2 linked regions of the Homo sapiens genome follow. The protein of the gene in region 1 interacts with the protein of each later gene in a pairwise test. Each region holds a gene or a part of one and is shown on either strand. Other genes may lie near its edges.

Region 1 (7,652 bases):
AGCGGAGCAGAGTAACACCTCTACTGAGCGAAGTCCGCCAACCTCCAAAATCCTCCCCTCCCATAGTCCCTAGAGGGGAAGTCTAGGCATGTTATCGGACCATGTCCTGGGGCTTCAAAGACCTGAAACAGGGTTAGGGCTTTTGGTGGGCCCTTCTTTTGGAGAGAGGTTCCCTGGTTAGCACCGGTGGGCCTCATATTTCTTTCTTTCTTTCTTTCTTTTTTTTTTTTTTTTTTGTGACAGGGGCTCTCTCTGTCTTCCAGGCTGGAGTGTAGCCGCGCAATCTTGACTTACCACAACCTCCACCTCCCAGTCCTCGAACTCCTGTGCTTAAGCGATGAGGCTGGCTTCGTCCTCCCAAAATGTTGGGATTACAAGCGTGAGCCAGAGCCCTGCCTTAAAATTAAAAAAAAAAAAAGTTTATATCTATTTATTTATTTATTTATTTATTTTGAGATGGAGTCTCGCTCTGTCACCCAGGCGGGAGTGCAGTGGCGCGATCTTGGCTCACTGCAACCTCTGCCTCCCGGGTTCAAGGGATTCTCCTGCCTCCACCTCCCGAATAGCTGGGACTACACCTGTGCCCCACCACGCCCGGCTAATTTGAGACAGTGTCTCTCTCTGTCGCCCAGGCTGGAGCGCAGTGGCGTGACCTTGGCTCACTGCAGCCTTGACTCCTAGGGCTTAAGCGATCCTCCCACCTCAGCCTCCTGGGTAGCTGGGACTACAGGGGCAGCTCACCTCCCAGTCCGCGAACTCCTGTGCTTAAGCGATGAGGCTGGCTTCCTCCGCCCAAAATGTTGGGATTACAAGCGTGAGCCACAGCCCTGCCTTAAAATAAAAAATAAAAAAAAGTTTATATTTATTTATTTATTTACTTATTTTGAGATGGAGTCTCTCTCTGTCACCCAGGCGGGAGTGCAGTGGCGCAATCTTGGCTCACTGCAACCTCTGCCTCCCGGGTTCAAGCGATTCTCCTGCCTCCGCCTCCCGAATAGCTGGGACTACACGTGCGCCGCACCACGCCCGGCTAATTTGAGACAGTGTTTCTCTCTGTCACCCAGGCTGGAGCGCAGTGGCGTGACCTTGGCTCACTGCAGCCTTGACCCCTAGGGCTTAAGCGATCCTCCCACCTCAGCCTCCTGGGTAGCTGGGACTACAGGGGTGCTCCACTGCTGCCCCGCCATTTTTTTTTTTTTTTGTAGAGACAGGTTTTCGCCATGTTGTCCCGGCTGGTTTCGAACTCCTGGGGGGGCCCAAACAGTTCACTCGCCTCGGCCTCCCAGTGTGCTGGGATTACAGGCCTGAGACGCCGTACCGGCTTGGTCTTCATCTTGACTCTAGTTAGGGCCAAGAGACCTCTGAAGAACTGAGGCTGCCCTGTTAGAGAAAGCCTTCCCCTCCCTGAGACCCGCCAGGCTGAAATGAGAGGCAAGCCAGTTTTATAGTTCCGCCTAGGGCTTTCCAGGGTTAAAAACATGGATTGTCCCTTCAGTCCCCGCTGAGGGTTCTTACCTTTACTCCGGATCAGTTCTAAGACTCACGCTAGGCCACGAACCTGACTGAAGCTATTGCACCCGTCAGGCCAACTGCCTCACTTTCAAAGCGGAAGTGAGGCTGAGCCACACCCCGCTCGGGGTCTCCGAGGGCTGACAGCAGCGGGTGACACGCTGGGACCCCACTGTTCTGGAGTCAGTGGTCCCTAGGTCCTTATTCAGGGTTCTCACCTTGATACTAAGCGGAGCAGAGTAACACCTCTACTGAGCGAAGTCCGCCAACCTCCAAAATCCTCCCCTCCCATAGTCCCTAGAGGGGAAGTCTAGGCATGTTATCGGACCATGTCCTGGGGCTTCAAAGACCTGAAACAGGGTTAGGGCTTTTGGTGGGCCCTTCTTTTGGAGAGAGGTTCCCTGGTTAGCACCGGTGGGCCTCATATTTCTTTCTTTCTTTCTTTCTTTTTTTTTTTTTTTTTTTTTTTTTTGTGACAGGGGCTCTCTCTGTCTTCCAGGCTGGAGTGTAGCCGCGCAATCTTGACTTACCACAACCTCCACCTCCCAGTCCTCGAACTCCTGTGCTTAAGCGATGAGGCTGGCTTCGTCCTCCCAAAATGTTGGGATTACAAGCGTGAGCCAGAGCCCTGCCTTAAAATTAAAAAAAAAAAGTTTATATTTATTTATTTATTTATTTTGAGATGGAGTCTCGCTCTGTCACCCAGGCGGGAGTGCAGTGGCGCTATCTTGGCTCACTGCAACCTCTGCCTCCCGGGTTCAAGCGATTCTCCTGCCTCCGCCTCCCGAATAGCTGGGACTACACGTGCGCCGCACCACGCCCGGCTAATTTGAGACAGTGTTTCTCTCTGTCACCCAGGCTGGAGCGCAGTGGCGTGACCTTGGCTCACTGCAGCCTTGACCCCTAGGGCTTAAGCGATCCTCCCACCTCAGCCTCCTGGGTAGCTGGGACTACAGGGGTGCTCCACTGCTGCCCCGCCATTTTTTTTTTTTTTGTAGAGACAGGTTTTCGCCATGTTGTCCCGGCTGGTTTCGAACTCCTGGGGGGGCCCAAACAGTTCACTCGCCTCGGCCTCCCAGTGTGCTGGGATTACAGGCCTGAGATGCCGCACCGGCTTGGTCTTCATCTTGACTCTAGTTAGGGCCAAGAGACCTCTGAAGAACTGAGGCTGCCCTGTTAGACAAAGCCTTCCCCTCCCTGAGATCCGCCAGGCTGAAATGAGAGGCAAGCCAGTTTTATAGCTCTGCCTAGGGCTTTCCAGGGTTAAAAATATGGATTGGGCTCCGAGAAGTCCCCTTATTTGTGGGTTTAGTTTTCCCTTTTTTACTCACTCAAGAACCTCACTTCGCTGCTGGCCAGTCCTGGGACTCCACATTCCATGCCATGAATCCTGCTCAGATCAAGGTCCTCCGAGATCTAGGCTGAAGTTTTGATGAGCCACATTAGGCCAGGGATGTTTGGGTCCTGTGAGGGCAGACAGCGGAGTCGGGTTTCTATGGGACATCACTGTTCTGGCTCCTCCTGTTCTTCATTCAAGGTCCTCCCTGATATCTGCCAGACCCTGGATCCTCCCTCTAGTTAACTGAGGTCACCTTAGGTCAAAACTCTCACTTCACTGAGAACTCTGAAGGGTAAAAGAGAGGATGCTCAGTCTGACTGCACTGCCTGGGGCATTCTAGGCTGAGAAGAGGTTTGGGTAGATTGCCCCGTTATCTTTTGGTGTGGTTGTCTTTCCAGTATTTATTTATGGGTGTCCTCCTTATTTTCTCTTGCCTCTCTGAATAAAGGCTTCCTGGGAAATGCCACATCCCTGCAAACTCTTGGGCAGCGTTCCTACTGCAAACCTTGCAAGTCTGTGCCCCAGGGCTAATGTGAGGTAAAGAAATTATAACACAAAGCAGGGAGTCCAAGGTAGCTGGTGGGTTGTCAGAGAAAAATGATGCTGATTTACTCTTTTCAATAGCCAGCACTAGCCTCTTATGTGACTTCTGTTTTAATTGATTTACTTCTTAAGGGGAAGGAGCTGTTCAAGATGATTGTGTGGTCCCTGATTTTGAGGTTATCTGACTGTGCATATGTAGATGATCATATTGTCACTGAATAATATCTCTTTCTCCTCTTTATTTGTAGCTTTCATTTATTTTGATATTCTTTATTGCTTTGGCTATGTATTCCAATCCAATTCTTTGGGCACAGAATCCTTCTTTTTAACCCCTGAGATATATTTGGAAGTATTGAGAAGAAAAGTGAATTAAAGAACACAAAGTCTGCTCCAGGCAGAGAGGAACAGAATGAAGAGTGTGGGCTCTAGAAGAATTCACAACAGGAGTCTAGTCCCAGCCCTGTCACTTACTCACCCTGTGAACTTGAGCATATTACCAAACTCCAAACAAAGAAATTATAATCAAACAAAATGCTGCTTAGCAAGGAAAATTATATAATTTATAAAGTGTTTGTGGAAGAGCCTTCTCCAATTGGATACAACTCAAGTCTCAAAATTTTTGTCAATGACCAATATTTTTTTCTAACTCCTAGGCACCCTTCTATGTTAACCACTCCTGTTTTGATTTTTATTATTTATTTATTTTTTTTTTTTGAGATGGAGTCTCACTCTGTCACCCAGGCTGGAGTGCAGAGGCACTATCTCGGCTCATTGCAACCTGTGCCTCAGGGCTCAAGTGATTCTCGTGCCTCAGCCTCCCTAGTAGCTGGGATTACAGATGTCCACCACCACGCCCAACTAATTTTTGTATTTTTGGTAGAGACGGGGTTTCACCACGTTGGCCAGACTAATCTTGAACTCCTGATCTCAAGAGATCCACCTGCCTCGCCTCCCAAAGTGCTGGGATTACAGGCATGAACCACCATGCCTGGCTGCACCCCTGTTGAAAGTCCTTTTAATAGAGCGGGCTCTTGATTCTCCAACCCAGGACAAAGAGTGCCAGCACGGTGGCTTCTGGGCATCTTACCTCCCCTGAAGCTGTCATCTCCCTTATTTCTCAGAAACTCACTAGAGATGATGTACATAGAACACCTAGGTTGTGCACTGTATTAGACTGTGCTAGGATAGGGACATAGAACACTTTTCACTTTTGTCCTAGGTAGGGGTTCTCTCTGGTTTTCCCACAACAGGAAAGTAAATGTTAGGGATAGTTTCCCATTCCGGGCTTAGTCTCTCAACACTGAAATGCACCAACTGTATAAAGCACCTAGTTTGTGCACTGTGACTATGTTCTGCTGCACTGGGACAAGAGCACAGGGCACATTCCATTCCTGCCCCAGGTGCAGATTCTCTCTGGTTTATCCGTGAGCACAAAATAACTGTTAAGAACTACTTCCCATTCCAGGCTTTGTCTCACACCTCTGAGAGGCACCATCTGAGGGCCTGGCCCCTCCCACAGTCTCATCCAGCCCACCATGTAGTTTCCCTTAAAATTACCTCCCAATGGGGGACTTGAGGTTTCCTAACACTCCAAACTGCCTTGCCTCAGGGCATTTACACTTGATTGCTCTCATCTCAAACCTCCTCTTTTTCTCATTCCTCCTTTGTACTTGTTCTTTAAGTTTTAGAGAGCACCTCATCATCTTTTTTTTTTTTATGACAGCTGCTCCCAGACTCTAAAATTAAATGGGCAAGAAATTGATTTGTTTTGGGGAAAACATTCCCAGTACTAACATGAAGACTTCCAAAGAGCTGATGCTCAATTAATGATTAAGGAATAAACAAGAGAGTGAGTATGAAGTCCAATAAATTAGGATTTAATCTCTCCTACATTCTTTAATAATCTAAGCAAATCCAGATATGTAACTCTTAATTTTATAAGAAGAAAGACTAAAAGGAATTAGGCAAACCAAGAATAGACAAACTTTTTTAAAAAAATTTTTTGATCTCAACAATTTTTAATACAGTATTCAATCACATTTCCAACATAATCAGTACTCAAGAAAATTCACTACTTGTATGACATTTCTCAAAGAAGACATAAAAATGTCCAATAGCTATACAAAGATGTGCTCAACATCACTAACCATCAGGGAAATGCAAATCAAAACCACAGCGAGATATCACCTCACACAAGTTAGGAAGGCTATTATAAAAAAATAAAACAAAAACAACCAAACAAAAACCCACTGGAGATGAATGTTGGCAAGAGTGTAGAGAAAATGGAACGCTTCTACACTATTGGTGGAAATGCAAATTGGTACAGCCATTCTAGAATACAGTATGAGCTTTCTCAAAAAATTGAAAATGGACTACCATATGACCCAGCAATCCCTTGTCTGGGCATAAGGAAACGAAATCATCACCTCCTGTAGATATTTGTGCCCCCATGTTCACTGCAGTATTATTCTCAATGACCAAGATGCGGCAACAACAAAATTGTTTACCAATGGATGAATGGATAAAGGAATTGTGGTATATATGTACAATGAAACAGAAAACCAAATACTGCATGTTCTTTGTGGGAGTTAAACATTGAGTACACATGGACACAAAGAAGGGAACAACAGACACTGGGGCCTACTTAAGGGCGGAAGGTGGGAGTAGGGTGAGGATGGAAAAACTGCCTATTGTGTACTATGCTTATTACCTGGGTGATGAAATAATCTGTACGCCAGACCCCCATGACATGCAATTGCCTATATAACAACCTGCACATGTACCCCTGAAACTAAGATAAAATTTAAAAAAATGTTATTTAGCCTTGAAAAAGAAAGAGATTCTGCCATTGCAACAACACAGATGAACTTGGGGGACGTTATGCTGAATGAAATAAACCAGACACAGAAAGAAAAATGCTGCATGCTATTAATATCCCTTATATGTAAAATCGAAAAAGAAAAAAATGTTAAATACATAGAAAAAGAGAATAAAACAGTAGTTACCAGAGGCAGGGTGGGGAGGGGATGCAGAGATGCATGTCAAACAGTACAAAGTTGCAGTTTTATAAGACGAATAAATCTAGAGATCTAAAGTACAGTATGAGGACTACAGTTAGTAATATTGTATTGCATACTGCAAATTTTCTAAGAGTAGATTTTAGCTGCTCTTACCACAAAACAAGGTAACTATATGATATAATGGATATATTAAATTGCTTACCTGTAGTAAGCATTTCACCATGTACTGTAATGCATTGCTTAACAATGAAGATACTTTCTGAGAAACGCGTTGTTAGGCAATTTCATTGTTGTGCAAATATAATAGAGTATACTTACATAAACCTAGGTGGTATATAGCCTACTACACACGTAGGCTATTTGGTGTAGCCTATTGCTCCTAGGCCACAAACCTGTGCAGCATGTGACTGCACTGAAAACTATAGGCAAATGTAACACGGTGCTAAGTATTTGTGTACCTAAACACAGAAAAGGTACAGTAAAAAATATGGTACAAAAGATTGTTAAAAATCATACACCTGTGTGGAGTATTTACCATTAATGTAGCTTGCAGAACTGGAAGTTGCTTTGGGTGAGCCAGTGATTGAATAGTGAGTGAATGTGAGGGCCTGGGACATTACTGTACACTATTATAGACTTAATAAACATTGTACAGTTAGACTACACTAAATTCTCAAGCATAGTTTTCTTTCTTTAACAATAAATTAACCTTAGCTTACTGTAACTTTTTTTGCTTTATAAACTTCTTAATTTTTTTTAGCTTTTTGACTCTTTTGTAGTAACACTTAGCTTAAAACATAAGCACATTGTACAGCTGTACAAAAATATTTTCTTTCTTTATATTCTTATTTTATAAGCTTTTTTCTATTTTTACTTTTTAAATTTTTAAACGTTTTTGTTAAAAATGAAGACAAAAGCACCCACATTAGCCTAGGCCTACACAAGGTCAGGATCATCAATATCACTGTCTTCTACCTCCACATCTTGTCCCACTGGAAGGTCTTCAGGGACAATAATACGCATGGAGCTGTCATCTCTTATGATAACACCACCTTCTTCTGGAATACAACCTGAAGGACCTGCCTGAGACTGTTTTTACAGTTAACATTTTTTTTTTTAGTAGAAGGAGTGCACTCTAAAATAATAATAAAAGTACCACCTGTAATCCCAGCACTTTGGGAGGCTGAGGCGGGTGGATCACTTGAGGTCAGGAGTTCAAGACCAGCTTGACCAACATGGTG
Region 2 (7,022 bases), on another chromosome or scaffold:
AGTCCTCAGCGCCATTCCACTGCAGGCACGTCTCGACTTACCACTCTAAACTACACAGGTGAACACTTGGTTTGCATGCTAGTTTTATAAACTTTTAATTTCAATGCAAAGTCAAAGGAAGGTGACCAAACTTTCCACAGGCAAATTTGAATTTTTCCAAAATTTTATGCAGGTGTTGGTGAAATTTACTGCTGCCAACTAGGCCCTGGGGTTGAGGCACAAAGGCCTTTAATGAGATTGAAACACTATGTTTATAGACCAATCTGGTTGTATTTGCTGGCAATTTAACAAAACAGAAAAAAACAAGTAAAATTGAATGAGAAAAAGTCTTTTATTTGTCTTGAACACCGCACTGGGGCAGAGCAGGGTGAGCTGGAGGCAGCTGAGGAGGGTGGGGGCTCTGTGAGCACACTTCCCCTCAGTACGTGAGGCTGTCCTGCACCTGAGTGAGAAGGGCCGGGGAGGGAGGGAGGAGCATGAACAGGTGAGGACAGGTGTGGAAAGCAGGCAGGGAGGAATGGGGGAGGAGGAAGCTGCTCATACTGTAAGAAGAGGAAGGGGCTGGGACTGAGAGCTGGTCCTGTGCTCTCTGTGGGCTGGGAAGTAGGGGCTGAGGCCAGTGGACCCATGGACAGGTCAGTGGCCTAAAGGGATGCCAGTCACCCTCATACAGGGCCCTTTACGAGCAGGTTGGGTTTGTTTTTTTCAAATCTTGCAAAATGCCTGCAGTGCACAGTGGGTGTGCAATGGATGCTGCCCCATTGAGGAAGCCTAGGGAAGCCTGTGCTGAAATCCCACATAAAGCGTCAGCCCTTCAAGGCACACTCAGGGCAGAGGGCCAACAGGCACACACAGCTCCTGCACTTTTCAGTATGAGGAAAGGGTCCCTTAGTTTTTAGGATGGGAAGGTCTTTCTGATAAACCTCCAGAGGCAGGGCATCTTCCTGACACCGGCCCGAGAGGCCAGTGTGTGCTGGCTGGCCAGGTGCCTGCCCGCCTGGTGCCCACCGCCCACACAGCCCCAGACAGACAGTGGGTGTCTTACATTGTTCTCCAGGCCCTCGATGACCTCGATGCCATTGTGGCTAAGGTACAGCTCCCGCAGGTTCACCAGGTTCTGCAGACCCTCGATCTTGGTCAGCCGGTTGCTCTGCAAGAGGGAGAGCACACAGCTGTCAGAACAGTACAGAAGGTATGAAATGAAACGGTTTTTAGGAAACGAGGTTTTGTGTTATCTTGAAGAATTCTAAGAACAGAGAATTTCACTTAAAACATGCTAGAATGGGGCCGGGCGCGGTGGCTCATGCCTGTAATCCCAGCACTTTGGGAGGCCGAGTGGGGCAGATCACGAGGTCAGGAGATCGAGACCATCCTGGCTAACGTGGTGAAACTCCATCTCTACTAAAAATACAAAAAATTAGCCAGGTGTGATGATGGGCGCCTGTAGTCCCAGCTACTCGGGAGGCTGAGGCAGGAGAACGGCGTGAACCCGGGAGGCGGAGATTGCAGTGAGCCAAGATCATGCCACTGCACTCCAGCCTGGGCAACAGAGCGAGACTCCATCTCAAAAAAAAATATATATATATAAAGGGCTGGGCACGGTGGCTCACGCCTGTAATCCCAGCACTTTGGGAGGCCGAGGCGAGAGGATCATGAGGTTATGAGATCGAGACCATCCTGGCTAACACGGTGAAACCCCGTCTCTACGAAAAAAATACAAAAAAAATTAGCCGGGCGTGGTGGCGGGTGCCTGTAGTCCCAGCTACTTGGGAGGCTGAGGCAGGAGAATGGCGTAAACCTGGGAGGTGGAGCTTGCAGTGAGCCGAGATTGCACCATTGCACTCCAGCCTGGGTGACAGAGCGAGACTCCGTCTCAAAACGAACAAACAAACAAACAAAAAACATGCTAGAATGGGACTCATGTAGAGAGAAAAAGAGGATCAAAATTTTGAGCCTGCTGTACTGAGCTAAAATTCATGCATGGGAATTACATGTTTTTTATATAAAGAATTCATTGTTAGGCCAGGTGCAGTGGCTCTCACCTATAATCCCAGCACTTTGGGAGGCCAAGGCAGGAGGATCACCTGAGGTCAGGAGTTTGAGACCAGCCTGGCCAACATGGTGAAACCTGTCTCCACTAAAAATACAAAAAATTAGCCGGGCGTGGTGGTGCACACCTGTAATCTCAGCTCCTTGGGAGACTGAGGCAGGAGAATCGCTTGAACCCAGAAGCTGAGGTTGCAGTGAGCCGAGATTGCACCCCTGTGCTCCAGCCTGGGCAATAAGAGCGAAATTCCATCTCAAAAAAAAACCAAAAAAAAGAACTCATTGTTAAAAGATACATTTGGTGAAGGTTTACCTGATTTAATAATTTTAAAGTGTAAAAATTACTGAATATTTTAAAGTAAATTAATTATAATTTCTTTCTTTCTTTTTTTTGAGATGGACTCTCGCTCTGTCACCCAGGCTGGAGTGCAGTGGCACAACCTTGGCTCACTGCAATGTCCTCCTCCTGGATTCAAGCATTTCTCCTGCCTCATCCTCTTGAGTAGCTGGGATTACAGGCGCCCGCCACCATGCCTGGCTAATTTTTGTATTTTCAGTAGAGATGAGATTTCACCATGTTGGCCAGGCTGGTCTCAAACTCCTGACCTCAAATGAACCGCCTGCCTTGGCCTCCCAAAGGGCTGGGATTACAGGCGTGAGCCACCACGCCTGGCCTAAGAGCTTTTTTTTATATTTTTAATTTTTTTAGAGATGGGCTCTCACTATGTTGCCCAGGCTGGTCTTGAACTCCTGGGCTCAAGCGATCTGACCGCCTAGATCTCCCGAAGTGCTGAGGTTACAGGCATGAGCCACTGTACCAGGCCAAGAACTTTCTTAAAGAAGCCTGACAAACTTCTGCTTCACCAAGGGTTAAGAGCGGTTTCCACATGCCCCTCAGTATCAGTCGAAGGGATCAGGGATCAACTAACCATACCGGGCCTCGTCCCCAGAGCACTCTGTTCCATCTCGCTTCAAGGGTCCAATTCTGCTAATTTGCTTCCAACACAAAAGGTAAACAGGAGCCTAGGCACACCCAAGTGCTTACCAACTCCCAAATGCAGAAGTCTAACAGGGTTGATATTCTCTGTGCAATGGAAGGAATTGCTTTTACCATTGAGCCAAACACTTTAGAATTTAGAATAAGCTCCACCTTCTGAAGAAGTCCCCTTTGGCTAAAAACCATCTATGACTGCTACTGGGGCAGAAGGGGGAGGTGGGTGGGTGGAAAAAGCCAAAAACATGGCACTTAAGAAAGAAATTTTTTGGGAGGCCAAGGCAGGAGGTTTGCTTGAGTCCAGGAGTTCAAGACCACCCTGGGCAACATAGGGAAACCCCTTCTCTACATAAAATACAAAAATTAGCCAGGCATGGTGCTGTGTACCTGCAGTCCCAGCTACTTGGGAGGCTGAGGAGGGAAGATTGCTTGAGCCTAGGAGTGTGAGGCTATAGTGAGCTATGAATGCACTTGTCACTGCACTCCTGCCTGGATGACAGAGTGAGACCTTGTCTCTTAAAAAAAAAAGAAAGGCCACGAGTGGTGACTCATGCTTGTAAACCCAGCATTTTGGGTGGCCAAGGCAGGAAGATCACTTGAGGTCAAGAGTTCAAGACCAGCCTAGGCAACATAGTGAGACCTCATCTCTTCCATTCCTCACCCCCTTGACAAAATATTAGCTGAAGGTCGTGGTGCATGCCTGTAGTCCTACCGACTTGGTAGGCTGAGGTGGGAAGCTGGCTTGAGCCCAGGAGTTGGAGGCTGCAGTGAGCTATGACAGCACCACTGCACTGCAGCCTGAGTGACAGATAAAGACCCTGTTTCTAAAAAAGTGAAAAAAATAAATAAAAAATAAAAAAGAGAATCAAGTTTTTGCTTGGCACATGTGTGTATAAAGTCTATGGCATCTAATGTTTCAATTGCTTACTAATAGTGCAACGAAGTGCCAATTGTGAAGGCAGTGAAGGATAAAAACTAAGATTGTGTCCAGCAGCGCTGGCCCTGCCAGGGCTCGCAGGGAAGGGCGGCTCAGGAAGCTCCGTACCTGCATACTGAGGACTGTCAGGTTGGTGAGCGCATCCAGGTTCTGAAGTTTAGTAATTTTGTTTTTCCCCAAAAACAAACTCTCCAGGTTGGTTAAGGTGTCGATATTTTCGATTGCCTGTGGAAAGGACAGAACAGCAATGAGTACTGCAGTTGACAGGCTGCCCCAGGCAGCCAGCAGGTGCCTGGACCGGGGCAGAGCTATGTGGGCTTCAGCTCTGCGATGTGGGGCTAGTGACGTATCTGCTAAGACTTCCAGTGGAAATCCTACTTGAAGGTAGAATACAATAGTGGCGAGTCCAAGACTGTCTTGAGCTCATTCCCAACCCTCAGATTTCCTGGGGTGCTGAGGAACAGTCTCAGAACCCAAGGACCAGTAGATTCCCAAGTCCCTTCCAGTTCTAAATTTGTGAGCTGACACATTAAAATGTCCCCCTGTCGGGCGTGGAAATCCCAGCACTTTGAGAAGCTGAGGCAGGTGGATCACAAGGTCAGATAGAGACCATCCTGGCTAACACGGTGAAACCCTGTCTTTATTAAAAATACAAAAAAATTAGCTGGGCGTGGCGGCGGGTGCCTGTAGTTCCAGCTACTCCGGAGGCTGAGGCAGGAGAATGGCGTGAACCCAGGAGGCAGAGCTTGCAGTGAGCCGAGATTGTGCCACTGCACTCTAGCCTGGGCAACAGCACGAGACTCCGTCTCAAAAAAAAAAAAAAAAAGTCCTCCCAAGAGCCTCAGTCTCTACAGAAGAGAGGTACGGGGCACTCTGACCTCAAGTCTTTGAAATCCTGGGACCCTCACTTAGGATTCCTGGGGGGCCCTCACACCACAGCACTCTGCCCCTCTTGCCCAGTTTCCACACCCTCCTACATCACTCTTGCTGTGATCGTGTGCTCCTCTATTCAACCATAAACCTCCAGAGGCAGTGACCACGCTGCCCTGTCTGGTCTCCCCATGGTGACTTGCCTACAGCAGGATGTTTAATGACTGTTTATTGATTTGACTTCAGTTTCCCTCCTCTGTCAGTTCACTCTCTCTCAGAACAAGTCATTCTTTAAATATTTCAGCAGACACAAAATAACCAGATAAGGTGCATGCTAACCAGGTGGGGACTCTAGGAGGGGAGATGGTGTGCTAATCCACACACCACTGCAGGACTTGGCGGGGGCAGGGGCATCCTCACATGCTGTAGCCTGCATTAATTTGTGATGAGCCACTGTTGCCCTAGAAAGTTCCATAGTGAGACACTTGGTAAAATGCGGACATCTGGGCTGCTCTCTAGTTTTAAATGTGCTGCTTTGCTATTTGTGGCCATGACATCTCTAACAATAACTGTCAAGAGACTGTTGCCAAAACCACCCTCCCTTGGTTTGTATCCTGTCCAAGCTCTCAAGGGCCCAGGACAGACAGAGAATGCTGTAATACTTCCAGAAGCCAAGTAGAGGGGCATTCTGAACATGGGCAGGGGCGGATGTGCTTAGACACAGCTGCCAAAGCCACTAAGCCAGGCCGGGGGAGCAAAGGCTCCGTGCCATGACCCTGATTAGGAGCCAGGCACGGGGCTCAAGTGTTCTTCTGGCTGAGAGAAGTCCTCCTTCCTGCCCACGGGAACCCTCCCTCCTCCCTGCCTGGCAGATCCACCTCCAATGTCAGTCCTCCTGGGACGCCCTCCCAAGTTCCCCTCCAGCACATGACGGTGGTTATGAGTCAGCTGGTGAAGACTTGATCCTGCTTCTGTGGAACACCAGATCACTTTTCAAAATTCTTTTATTTCCATTCTGTCCCACGTTTTCAAGGTCAAATGGATCCTGGAGAACAGATCTAATCCTGCTGGGGACGGTGTCCAGGAGTATAAAGCTGTCCAGGGAGGAAGGCCCAACTCAGCACTGCCTTTGGGAGTGTGTCAGCATCAAGAGGTTTTCTAAAGCCCCCGGTATGTACATCAGTTCACTCCAAGTGACCACTTTGCTGGGCTTGGGAAACTTTCATCTCGAAGAAGCATGCCAGAGAAGATGACCATGATCAAGAGGCTTTCTAAAGCCCCGGTATGTACATCAGTTCACTCCAAGTGACCACTTTGCTGGGCTTGGGAAACTTTCATCTCGAAGAAGCATGCCAGAGAAGATGACCATGATCAAGAGGCTTTCTAAAGCCCCGGTATGTACATCAGTTCACTCCAAGTGACCACTTTGCTGGGCTTGGGAAACTTTCATCTCGAAGAAGTATGCCAGAGAAGATGACCATGATCAAGAGGCTTTCTAAAGCCCCGGTATGTACATCAATTCACTCCAAGTGACCACTTTGCTGGGCTTGGGAAACTTTCATCTCGAAGAAGCATGCCAGAGAAGATGACCATGATCAAGAGGCTTTCTAAAGCCCCGGTATGTACATCAATTCACTCCAAGTGACCACTTTGCTGGGCTTGGGAAACTTTCATCTCGAAGAAGTATGCCAGAGAAGATGACCATGATCAAGAGGCTTTCTAAAGCCCCGGTATGTACATCAGTTCACTCCAAGTGACCACTTTGCTGGGCTTGGGAAACTTTCATCTCGAAGAAGCATGCCAGAGAAGATGACCATGAGGAAGTTCAAGAGCAAGGCATTCAGGTTGGTTGGTTCATCTCAGGCAGAATGTAACTGGGAACAGTGTGATTCAGGGTCATGATCTGGATGAAGAGCAACTGAAATCTACGTGCGGAAGAAAGGCTAGACCACTCAGGACTTACTGATACTGACTTTCAGTTAGCATTTTTTCTTAAAAAAATAGTAATTTCCTTGTTCATGAAAAAAATCACAGCATTGTAAGAAATGCAGACTCACCATGCATTCTACATACACCCACTGAGTCCACACACAGCCCGCTAGCTGCCTCTCCCTGAATATACTAGTCAGGGCTGTCTGCACCTACCCGGATGCGGTTAGATCCCAGCTCTAGCAT

Evidence for each region. Proteins that work in one complex are often made in the same cells at the same time.
Region 2: the proteins of MAGEB3 (region 1) and PPP1R7 interact in binary tests that used the Homo sapiens proteins (3 or more experiments, as listed by UniProt).

Annotation. Positions count from the first base shown.
Region 1 is NC_000023.11:30,226,006-30,233,657, reverse strand, and holds the start of MAGEB3 (melanoma-associated antigen B3), read right to left. Parts: upstream 3,002-7,652; 5' UTR 2,841-3,001; intron 2,142-2,840; 5' UTR 2,040-2,141; intron 1,592-2,039; exon of another isoform or gene 1,516-1,591; intron 832-1,515; 5' UTR 742-831; intron 397-741; 5' UTR 295-396; intron 1-294.
Region 2 is NC_000002.12:241,160,465-241,167,486, reverse strand, and holds part of PPP1R7 (protein phosphatase 1 regulatory subunit 7), read right to left. Parts: coding exon 6,993-7,022; intron 4,203-6,992; coding exon 4,086-4,202; intron 1,151-4,085; coding exon 1,046-1,150; intron 443-1,045; coding exon of another isoform or gene 419-442; exon of another isoform or gene 313-418; intron 1-312. UniProt on the Homo sapiens protein: Regulatory subunit of protein phosphatase 1.